Regions from separate parts of the Homo sapiens genome. Here region 1 is linked to region 2. Evidence: fine-mapped QTL for protein levels in blood plasma. Region 2 holds a variant in brackets. A gene starts in the other region. All regions are shown on their forward strands.

Region 1 (5,370 bases), not on the chromosome of region 2:
ATTCAGTGGTAGGCAAGATGGACAAGATTCCCCCCTCTCACAGACCTTGCTTGCTATAGGGGAAATAGACAGGAAACCAATTACTACATTTGTAACTTAATAACAAGTGTCATAAGTGTTACAAAGGAGATAGATACTATAAGGCACCTTTTATTTTTATTTGTTTATTTATTTTTTGAGACTCACTCGCTCTGTTGCCCAGGCTGGGGTACAGTGGTGCGGTCTCGGCTCACTGCAACCTCTGCCTCCCAGGTTCAAGCGATTCTCCTGCCTCAGCCTCCCGAGTAGCTGGGATTACAGGTGTGAACCACCACACTCTGCTAATTTTTGTATTTTTAGTAGAGACAGGGTTTCACCATGTTGGCCAGGCTGTTGTTGAACTCCTGACCTCAAGTGATTGATCCACATTGACCTCCCAAAGTGCTGTGATTACAGGCGTTAGCCACCGCGCCTGGCCTATAAGGCACCCTTGGTCAGCCAGTGGAAGCAGGGTCAGTAGTGCGCCGGAGAGTCACTTTGAAAAAGTGATATTTAGGTTGATCTTGAAGCATTCACAAGATGTGGTAAACACATCTAATGGTAAACATGTGATGGTAAACATTAGATGTGATAAAGATACTGATGGTCCACTGGATGAACAGTTTTCATATTTACTTCCAAATGATTTCATAGATATTATTTCACAGATAACACTTAGGATGAAGGTAAATAAAAAGGAGATCAATTAAAATATGAAATAATAATAGTGAAAGTGGTAATAGATGTGGCAATATCCACAAAGGAGTAATGGTTAGATTAGCATATTGAGAAGATCACTTTGGCAATTGTTGGAATGCAGTTTACGAGAGGGCCAAGAATGGAAGCAGCAATCCCTGTTAGAAGTGTAGTGTTTTGGAGTGCGGTGTTTTTTGTTGGTTTGTTTTTTGTTTTTTTTAAACCAGGTCTCACTCTGTTGCCCAGGCTGGAGTGCAGTGCAGCCTCGACCTCCTCCTCGGGCTCAGGTGATCCTCCCACCTCAGCCTCCCGAGTAGCCGGGACTACAGGCACATGCCACCACACCCCGCCAGTTTTTGTATTTTTTTGTAGAGTCAGGGTTCTGCCATGTTGCCCAGGCTGGTCTTGAACTCCTGGGTTCAAGTGATCTGCCAGCCTCGGCCTCCCAAAGTGCTAAGATTACAAGTGTGAGACACCACCCCCAGCCAGCACATTGTATTAATCCAAGCAGGAGAACGCAGACTTCAAAGGCTTATGGGCAGCAGAGAGAAGTAGATGAAGCAAAGAGATGCAATCAGCGGGACTAGTGGGAAATGAGGGAAAGGAAGGTGTCAGGATGGGGCTTTTTCTAGCTGAGTGGAGTTCAGTTCATTCCCAGAGAAGCTTGAGAGGTATCCAACTATAGATGCAAGGTAGCTGGCTGTTGGTCCCTTGTCTTTAGGACAGTTTGACTTTTGTAATACAGGCGACCTCACAGAGCTATTGTGAGAATTCAGAGCTGGGCACAGAATAGATGCTCTATAAACGGTAGTTCTATTCCCCATTTGCCCCGTCCTCCCAGCATGCCAGGGATACAGGGGCGGATAGAGACAGGTTCAGTTCCCTTTGGTCTCTTGCATTCCCCCTTCCCTCAGCACAATTCCTGGGCTCATAGCGGATGCTCAATAAGTATTTGTAGAATGAACCAAAGAAATCAGACCCTTGGTGACCCAGGGCTACATGTACTCGGCGGAAAACTGGGGTTAAACCGGACCCTTGGTTGGTTGAAAAATTAAAATAATTTTTAAAAAGTGGGCGTGAAATAATCCAGAAGTTGGAGGGCCTGGACAAAGGCTGGGGAGGGGACTCCTCCCACCAGGCGGCCTCAGGGTCGGCTTAGCAAGAAAGGAGGCGCTGGGGAGACCTCTGGGGTCCCAGCTGCCAAGGTACTCGCCGCTCCAAGGAGATGCGGACGCCGGATACCAGCTCTGCCCAAGATTGCTGGGTCCCGCCGCGGCCTTTAAAGGCCCACCACGTGGCTGCGCGGCCAGCCCTGGTCCGGAGGCGGTGCCCGGGTGGCGCCTGCGCACTGCCTAGCAGAGGGGCTGGGGTTCCGAGAAAAAGCGTCTGGAGAGGAAGGGGAGGCTGCTTGGGGTGGGACGCCGTGGGAGGAGTCGGCTCCTTATGCAAATCACAGCGGAGCGCGCACGGTCCGGAGGCGGGGCTTGCGATGCAAAGACAGGTCCGTCTGGCGAACAGCGAGGGGGCGGGCCGCAACCCTCTGCCTCTTTCCGCGAGCGCTGACGTCGCCGACGTGTTGTTTAAAAGCGGCCGCGCAGGCGCAGTGAGCCCAAATGCGAACTTAGGCTGTTACACAACTGCTGGGGTCTGTTCTCGCCGCCCGCCCGGCAGTCAGGCAGCGTCGCCGCCGTGGTAGCAGCCTCAGCCGTTTCTGGAGTCTCGGGCCCACAGTCACCGCCGCTTACCTGCGCCTCCTCGAGCCTCCGGAGTCCCCGTCCGCCCGCACAGGCCGGTTCGCCGTCTGCGTCTCCCCCACGCCGCCTCGCCTGCCGCCGCGCTCGTCCCTCCGGGCCGACATGAGTGGGGACCACCTCCACAACGATTCCCAGGTACGGCCCGGCCTGACCCTGGCGGCCCCGGACCCCGGCCTGGCCGTCCCGCGACCCCCGGCGCAGGCCCCGACCCCAGCCCCGGCCCGGCAGCTTTGACAGGCCGGAGCCCCCGGTGAGGGGCCGCCTGCCGGAGTAGATCGGCTCGCTAGGCCGCGAGCGAGGGCCGCGAAGTTACAGTTCGAGGCAGGGATGGCTGCCCTCTGTGGCCACCCCCGGGTCCCCGTCCTCCCCGGGGGCGCAGGGTGAGCCAGACCCCGGCCGCGCGCGCTCGCCGCCGGAGGGGTTAAAGTGGCTGTTGTTTGATATTCTCTCCTTTTCTTTTTCCAGATCGAAGCGGATTTCCGATTGAATGGTGAGTGTGCCCCCTGCGCCGACTCCGGGGCCCCCCAGCCGCCGGCCGCCTCCCCCGCGCCCTGCCGGTGCCGGGCAGAGGACAGACATGGCGTCCCAGAGACTAAGTCCCGGCTCCTCGCTCACCGGCCCCATTGTTCCCATCGGGCCGCCTCTTGACCCCCTTTCCGGGGACCCCAGCTCCTCCAGATCCCGGCCCTCCCAAGAGGGGACAACGGAGACCCCGTGTCGTCCGCCACCGGGCCTCGGGCGGTCTTTCCGGGCCGGGATTCCTCCCGGGAAAGTCGCCTTGTCGACGGTCGGGACTTAGTCTCTGCGCCATTTTCTTTTTCTCTCTCCTCTCCTTTCTGTGCCTGTGTCTCTTTCTCTCCCTCCCTCGGCTCTTTCCTTGAGCTGCCCAGAATGAGCTTTCTGCAGAGCAAAGCCGTATAAATCACATACTTCACCAGAGAGGGAAGGCTGGGGGACTGAATTATTATTTTTTAAACTTTATTTTGGGGGTTATTCCCTTTATGCTTCATGTTTGTTTCCTTTTCTGCTTCCAGAATGAAAGATTTCCTTAAGCAACTGTTAATTTTTTTTTTGATAGGCTGTTTATGATAGGAATTATGGCTCTAAAACTAAAGCCACGCTTTGTGGAGTTCTTTATATTTCCAGGTTGTTTTTCCCAAGTTACGTTCTTTGCAAAGGTAGCAGTACCTCCCTAAAGAAAGTTTGCAAGTTCTCTGTGGGTCACCCAATGTAAATGTTGGATTTTTAAAAAATTATGTTAGTCACTGGAACTTTTCATTGTGGTCGAGGTTCCCAATGCAGTGTTTTTCTGGAAACGCAGTTTAGTGTACTTGTTGGAAGGAAAGATTGTTGAGCATCTCTTGTGGACCTGGTGTGTTGGCCTTTTCGTTTGGGTTGTAAGGAGGAAAAAAAGATTTTATTTATTGAAGCAAAGAGTGTCCAGTACCCACCCCTGCTTCCTGTTCATTCTTTTTCACGAGCCACTGTTTTTCAGGAATCAAGAACTGGCTTTTTTTTTTTTTCCCAATTCTTTATGTTTTTGAACCCTTTTCAGCCAAATCAAGGCATTTATTCTTACTGTATTTCCACTTCAGTTACCCAGGGAAGAGTCCTCCAATAAAAAGCTCATCCTTGCAGGCTTTCGAACAACCCTGTTGAAGGAGAAGTTACCTTCTGTAGTGTGCTGGGAATTCCCACTGATTTTGATGGTACATAATCCTGCTCAATTGAGTTTGGGTTCCGGGAACCTCTCCAATGGGAGAAGTTGATGAGTAGGTTTTCTAATGTTGTAATCAGCAGTCCATCATGTTAGCCTGCTCTACTGAGAGCAACCTTATGTTCAGAGTTTGAAGTGGGGCATCCAGCAGGAGATGGTACTCAGCCAGGAGAGAATCTGGTTTAAAGTATGGCATTTCTTGAGCACCAGATATGTGCCAACCACTGTGCTTGGTGCTAGAGCTGATCCTGTAACCATAACACTCCCTTGCTCTCAATTCAGTCTATTGGGGGAGACATAATTAGTTAATTATAAGGTAACTACTGGGGCATATGTGTACCCAAAATGCTTTGAAGTATAGGGGAGTTAATTTTGTCTGAGGGTGGGGAAATTTCTCAGAGGAGGTGACTTCTGAGCTGGGGGTTGTGGAAGACTGGGCGCAGAGAATTGTCAGGGGTTGGAGTGTTTCTTAAGTACGTTTAACCAACCTATCACGATTTTAAAAGAGGGAGGAGGTGAGGCCTGCAGTTTAGAAAGCCACAGTATAGACATGTTTCTTTGGGATACAGGAGCAAAGAAAGGATGTGCAGGTGAGGATGTAAGAAGTCCTTTTGACCTTGCTAGAGGAAGGTGGGATCTTTAATATGGAATGTGTTCTTTTGGCTGTCAGGCTGGGCTGAGTAGGTAATGTAAGTAATGAAACAAAGTTTAGCCCTTTCTTGTGAGAAAGTTAACTTACATGGTTCTCACCTAAGTCACGTGAATGATTGTGAGCTGGCTAGGTTATTGATCTTTACTGACATTTTTATAGAGGCTGAAGTAATCTGCGTATGTTGACTTTTAGAATGTGTTGGCTCACATTTAATAGCAATAATAGCTAATATTTATTGAATACTTACTGCCAGGCATGAATCTCAGCTCTTTCCATGGATCATCTAATTAAATGTAATCCTTGGAAGGACCCTTGTGAGTTAGGTCCTGTTATTTCTGTTTTGTAGATGAGGAAACTGAGGCTTCAGTGTATTTACTAGCTTGCCCAAGGGCTGTGAGTTGGCCACTCTAAATCCCATGAGCTGAGCCACTATGCTAGAGTGATACTATATGATACTAGCATGAAAAAATAAAAAGCCACAAATCTCTATTTTCTTACAGAGCTGAAAAAGGAGAGAAGGAAGGATTTGATAA
Region 2 (5,370 bases):
TGGCTGGGAATAGGTGAGAATAGGCAGAGTGCTGGACAGTACTAGGGTCCTTTTCTTACTCTAAAGGTTACTTTTCTGTCCGTCTTTTGTTCCTAGCTGATTAGGAGTATGTGATACTTCTTCCCATACCTCATTTGCCAGTTGCTGCAATACAGTCACCACTGTCCCGCTTCCAAATATGATAGGCATTGGTGTCTGCTCCAATCTGGAAGAGAAACAGAGTCCTCAAGACTTAGCGAACCCCAGCCAAAGATCAGTGGCTTGAAGAGGAGAAGAAGGGAGATAGGAGGAAGTTTCAACGCTCCTGGCCAAGAGGTCTCTCATTCACCTCCCTCCCACCTCCACCAACTCAACATTCTGAAGATCTCAAAACATCCCCAGGAGCTTTCCCTGTCTACCAAGTCTGCATTAGGGTCCTTCTTTCCTCCCTCTGCTGTTCTCTAGAATCCTGTGTGTCCACTCTCATAGCCCATCCCATACTACAGCAGAATTGTCAGTCTCCTGACAATTTGAATGAATATAGCACTCCTTCCCACTTTGCTAAGAAAACCCAGCCAGGAGTAAGCTCTGCTGTTACAGATTCTGCTGTCCTCATTCATAGCCAGCAACTCTTATTTATTTTTGTCCTCCTGCCAGGACAGGTGGAGAATTTCGACAGCTCTACCAGTCATTGCCAATTTGTGATTCTAAATGTCTGGACTCTGGACTACTCTAGCTGCCTGACCTAGCTTCTGCCTGTAGGTCCTTGCTTTCCATATGGATATACTGACAGATCCTCTTCTGACTCCAGCCCTTGCAGGATACTGGTGGCTCTGTCTCTCCTGTGGCTCCCCCAACCCCCACCTTGGAAGGAATTCTCACTCCATTTGAGATGACCCCAGCCTGGTATCTGTGAGCCATGCTGAGATAACTCTTTATTTACACCTGTTGTATTAATCACCTGGATCTTTAGTCTGTCCTGGGCTTCCCCTTCTGTTCTTCCTCTAGTGTCAATTTTTTATAGCATAGTTTCCCAGCCCAACTTTAGGGCAGGAAGCTTAGCCTCCTCAAATTTAAAGTGGGAAAGTGCCAGGGCTTCCATCTCAAGTCTGGCATGGGAACAGGGCCAGGAGTTGCTTACCGGCTGACAGCAGCTGCAAGGATGCCAATGCTTGTCTCCTTTGGAGGAGCTGAAGAGTGGCCTGAAGTCATGTTTACTTGCAGCATGAGGTTCATGGAACCCTTCTCTGAGACTGCAATCCTGTAGAAGAGGATCGGAAACCACTCTCCTGACTTCTTGCCTCTCTGAATTCTCCCATAGGCCCATAGGTCCATCTGTGCAATAGTCTAGTGGGCAAGGAGGTAGCTTCATGCTGCTTTAAAAATTTTATACTGGAGGAAGAATGGAAGGGGAAGCCTAGGAGAGGTTAAAGATTGGGGCGATTAATGCGAGAGGTGTACACAAAGAGTTGTCTCAGCATGGCTCACAGATACCAGGCTGGGGTCATCTCAAATGGGGTGAGAATTCCCTCCAAGGTGTGGGGTGGGATGCTTTACTCACAAGGCGATGGGCTTCTTGAAGTTAGGAATGAAATCATCCAAGATGAAGCCCCCCTCGTCCACAATGAAGGCTAGCTGGACGCCCCTTGACTGTAGCAGGGCTGAGATCCTCTGAGCCCCTGTCCCTGATGACTGCAGACATGGAACATAGAGCTATAGTCCTTCTCAGCCAGAGACAGACCTCCAGACATAGCTAATGGGGACCTATTCAGCCTAGCTAGGGGCTCCAGAACCTTTCTACCTAGTCTCCTTCCTGGGAGCCAGGGCCCTAGAGAATCCTGCCTTACAGAATTCTGGAATGTCAGAGCTGGCAGGCCTCACCCTCCCTTATTTCACAAATGAAGAAACTGGAGCCAAAAGAGTGAAGTGACTTGCCCAGGGTCTAAGTAAGTAGCATCATTGGAAATAAAACGCAGTCATCACTCTCCCTTTTCAGTTCTTTTTCCATCACACGTATGTTTCTTAGGGTATAGGTGATGGACCCACTGCCTGCCTCAGATATTATGAAGGAGTTTGTTAAAAATTCAGATCTAGGGCACAGGGCCCAGGAATCTGAATTTTGGTCAAGGTCCTTAGATAGTCCTGGCATACAGACACACGGAGAAGTTGGCAAACTACCGTATCATGGAGACCTTGCTGCTGTGGGCAAACTGGACTAGGGTTAAGCACCCACTCCCCTACCCTCAACAGAGGACAGAGATAGGTATAAGGTGAGGAGGCTCTACCTCCTCATCATGGCCCAGAGAAATGAAGAAAGATCTTCGGGGGATGTACTTCCTGATCAGCAGGAGCTCCAAGGCCTGCAGTAATGCCTGGGGTTCAGAAGCACAATGGAAGAGGAAAAAGACGTTATTTAGGTGGGAATACCAGGGTATCAGAGACATTCAGTTGCCTGTTATCAGGGCTGGTGGGATGAGGATGTGATAGATTCTCTTGAAAGAGAACAGATTCAAATGGTACAGGGGACCTGATGCGGAGAAACAGAACGTTTACCACCTGGAGAAGAGCATAAACATATCAGTGTCAGGACTGAAAGGGTCCCTGGGGACCATTCAATCCCATTTACAGCTGAGAAATCAAGGCCCAGAGAAGGGAAGTGACAAACTGATGGCTGGAACCCAGGTCTCCTGGAGCCAAGATTCTTTTTACCATTATCTCCCACCTCCCAGGGTCAGCCAAGCACCCCCATCCTGATTGATCTTTAGGGCCCCAAGGCAGAGGGAACATTGCATCTCAGACCATCACAGAGTTCTTGTCGTCCAGTGTGCCCC[G/A]ACCATAGATGATGCCATCACGCTCCAACCCAGAGAATGGGGGCACCTCCCAGCCTTCTTCAGGGGCAGGCACCACATCAAAGTGAGCCATCAGCAGGTAGGGCTGCAAGCTGGGGTCCGAGCCTTGGATAGTGAACAGGTGGCTATACTCTTCCACGACTTCATGCTGGATAAAGCTGGTGCTGACCACTGTAGGAAAGACTAGAAGCAAAAAGGGCAGGAAGAGAGAACCAGGGTTAACAGTTTCCTTAGGTTTTCCTACCAAGTTGTGCTTCCTGTTCCTTTATTTATTTATTTTTTTAAACATGCATCCTCCTTTAGGAAGCCTTCTAGGACAAAGCTAGTCTGATTCCTGATCTACCTGGACAATCTTTGAAATTCGTCTTCCCCATATTTCAATGTGCTATTACTATGTAATAAATGCAAATCAAGAGCCACCATTAAGGCCAGGCTTGGGGGCTCATGCCTGTAATCCCAGCACTTTGGGAGGCCGAGGCAGGTGGATCACCTGAGGTCAGGAGTTCCAGACCGGCCTGGCCAACATGGCGAAACCCTGTCTCTACTAAAAATACAAAAATCAGTGAGGTGTGGTGGCTCATGCCTGTAATCCCTGCTACTCAGGAGGCTGAGACAGGAGAATCGCTTGAACCTGGGAGGCAGAGTTTGCAGTGAGCTGAGGTTCCGCCATTGCACTCCAGCGTGGGTGACAAGAGCAAAACTCCATCTCAAAAAAAAAAAAAAAAGACTCGGCCAGGCGTGGTGGCTCATGCCTGTAACCCAGCACTTTGGGAGGCTGAGGCGGGCAGATCACTTGAGGTCAGGTGTTCGAAACCAGCCTGGCCCACATGGTGAAACCCCGTCTCTACTAAAAATACAAAAAACAGCTGGGCGTGGTGGCACGTACTTGTAATCCCAGCAACTTGGAAGGCTGAGGCAGGAGAACTGCTTGAACTCAGGAGGTGGAGGTTGCAGTGAGCCGAGATCACACCACTGCACTCCAGCCTGGCTGACACAGCAAGACTCCAACTCAAAAAAAAAAGACTCACTATTAAGATGGTCAATATCTCAAGCTCAGGCTTGGTCAGACCTATAACATGCTATCACAAGTACGTGTTAAAGGGCTATGCAGATGAGGGATGCATTAAATTTTGACCATAGGAGGCCGCATTAACCAAATTATATTAAATTATTATATTAAATTAGTAGGCCTCATTAACCAAATTATATTTAAATATTATATTAAAAAGTTCAGAGACATTTTTCTTTTTAAAAAGCCACACATCTAGTGTATGTGTTATGTGAACATAAAGATTATTCTGTTTAGCACAAGGTCGTACTTCTGCGTGCAGGTGTAGATGTTCCTAGGGTCAATTATTCAAGCGACCTTAGCTACATAGGAGAAATAAATTTTATCTCTCTCTGGGTTTTTTGGAAGAATTCACATAAACTTCTGTGGATACCCGAAAACCGAAGAAGACTATGGTTTTATCTTGTCACCTAGCTTATCCAGTTTACTGTCACTATACATTTCCTTTCCTATGTTTGTCTCCTATTTAGTAAAGACTTGCAGCCTTTTCAGCCTGGCCTCAGCTTGGCTACTGGGCATTAATCCCTGAGCCACTCATTTTTGTTTTTTCCTTCCTTCCTTTCTTTTTTTTTTTTTTTTTTTTTTTTTTTCAGAGACAAGGTCTTGCTCTCTCACTTACACTCGAGCACAGTGGCACATTCATAGCTTACTGCAGCCTTGAATTCCTGGAATCCAGCAACCCTCCCACCTCAGCCTCCTGTAACTAGGACTACAGGTGCTCGCCACCATGCATGGCTAATCCCAGAGCCATTTGTCCCAGGGTGTTAGAGAGGGGGCTGCTTGCTGCTCCTAGGCCACCTTCTCCCACCTCTGACAACTTTGGAGGGGTTGTTTTTAATTAGATTTAGGAAGGTAATCTCATCACTCTCCATGAGATTTTCATAAGGGGAGGGAGGAGTTCCAAGAATCCTTTTTTCCTCTGACCCATCCTTCCTCAGCTCTGTACTCAATGGGTGGTAGGGATGAGGGAAAAAGACTGATGTTATAGCTCAAAGTTGTTGACTGCCTAGAGGCCTAGAAATGTGTTAGTAATGAATCTGGGGTAGGCCTGAGTACGTGGAGTGTATATGTACCGGTGTGTTTGGGTGTGTAAGGAGGTAGGGGTGGGAGGAGCATGGAACATAGTTCTGGGCAGTTGCACAAGTAGAAGGAAATCCTAGTTCTACTTTTTGATGATTTAACATTTATTGAATGACACACATGTAGGGCAAAATTTGAGAGAGTTTGTACTCTAATGCAATGGCTGGATGAACTCTCAATCTTTGCCCTACATATGGTGGCTTAGTTTTTCCAAGAGCAAATCTACAGTCTCTACTCTGCCTATGGGAATTAGATTGTCCTCTGATCAGTCGCAAAATAAACTTCTTTATCACTTTGTAAAAGAACTGTGTCTCCATTGCTATTTCTACCACCCACCCCTTGCCCCTGATTTGCAGCTGACCTTTATGAATGTATTTTCCGAACTCAGCCAGG

Which allele goes with the higher level. Alleles are on the strand shown, and positions count from the first base shown. The strength of an association depends on the size of the effect and on how common the allele is.
For the plasma level of the protein whose gene starts at base 2,325 in region 1, G is the high allele of the variant in region 2 and A is the other (strong association).

The links. PIP is the posterior inclusion probability: the model's chance that the variant is causal. Protein levels are from antibody-based Olink assays in UK Biobank. Linkage for the fine-mapping came from a reference panel and not from the study's own genotypes, which makes the PIPs less certain.
Region 1: TOP1 starts here. The variant in region 2 is fine-mapped to the plasma level of the TOP1 protein (UK Biobank, PIP above 0.99).

The regions. Positions count from the first base shown.
Region 1 is chr20:41,026,498-41,031,867 of GRCh38, forward strand. It overlaps TOP1 (DNA topoisomerase I), which reads left to right and starts at 2,325. Exons shown (of 21, transcript NM_003286.4): 1 at 2,325-2,603; 2 at 2,934-2,958. The coding sequence starts at 2,571. RefSeq lists silencers at 2,024-2,375, 2,596-2,665.
Region 2 is chr1:205,842,547-205,847,916 of GRCh38, forward strand. PM20D1 (peptidase M20 domain containing 1) reads right to left here. Exons shown (of 13, transcript NM_152491.5): 2 at 5,339-5,370; 3 at 2,779-3,011; 4 at 2,265-2,351; 5 at 1,541-1,671; 6 at 1,121-1,240; 7 at 130-205. Among named protein-coding and RNA genes, the nearest start is that of PM20D1, 4.9 kb to the right of the region's middle. The variant G/A (reference allele first, on the strand shown) is at 2,811.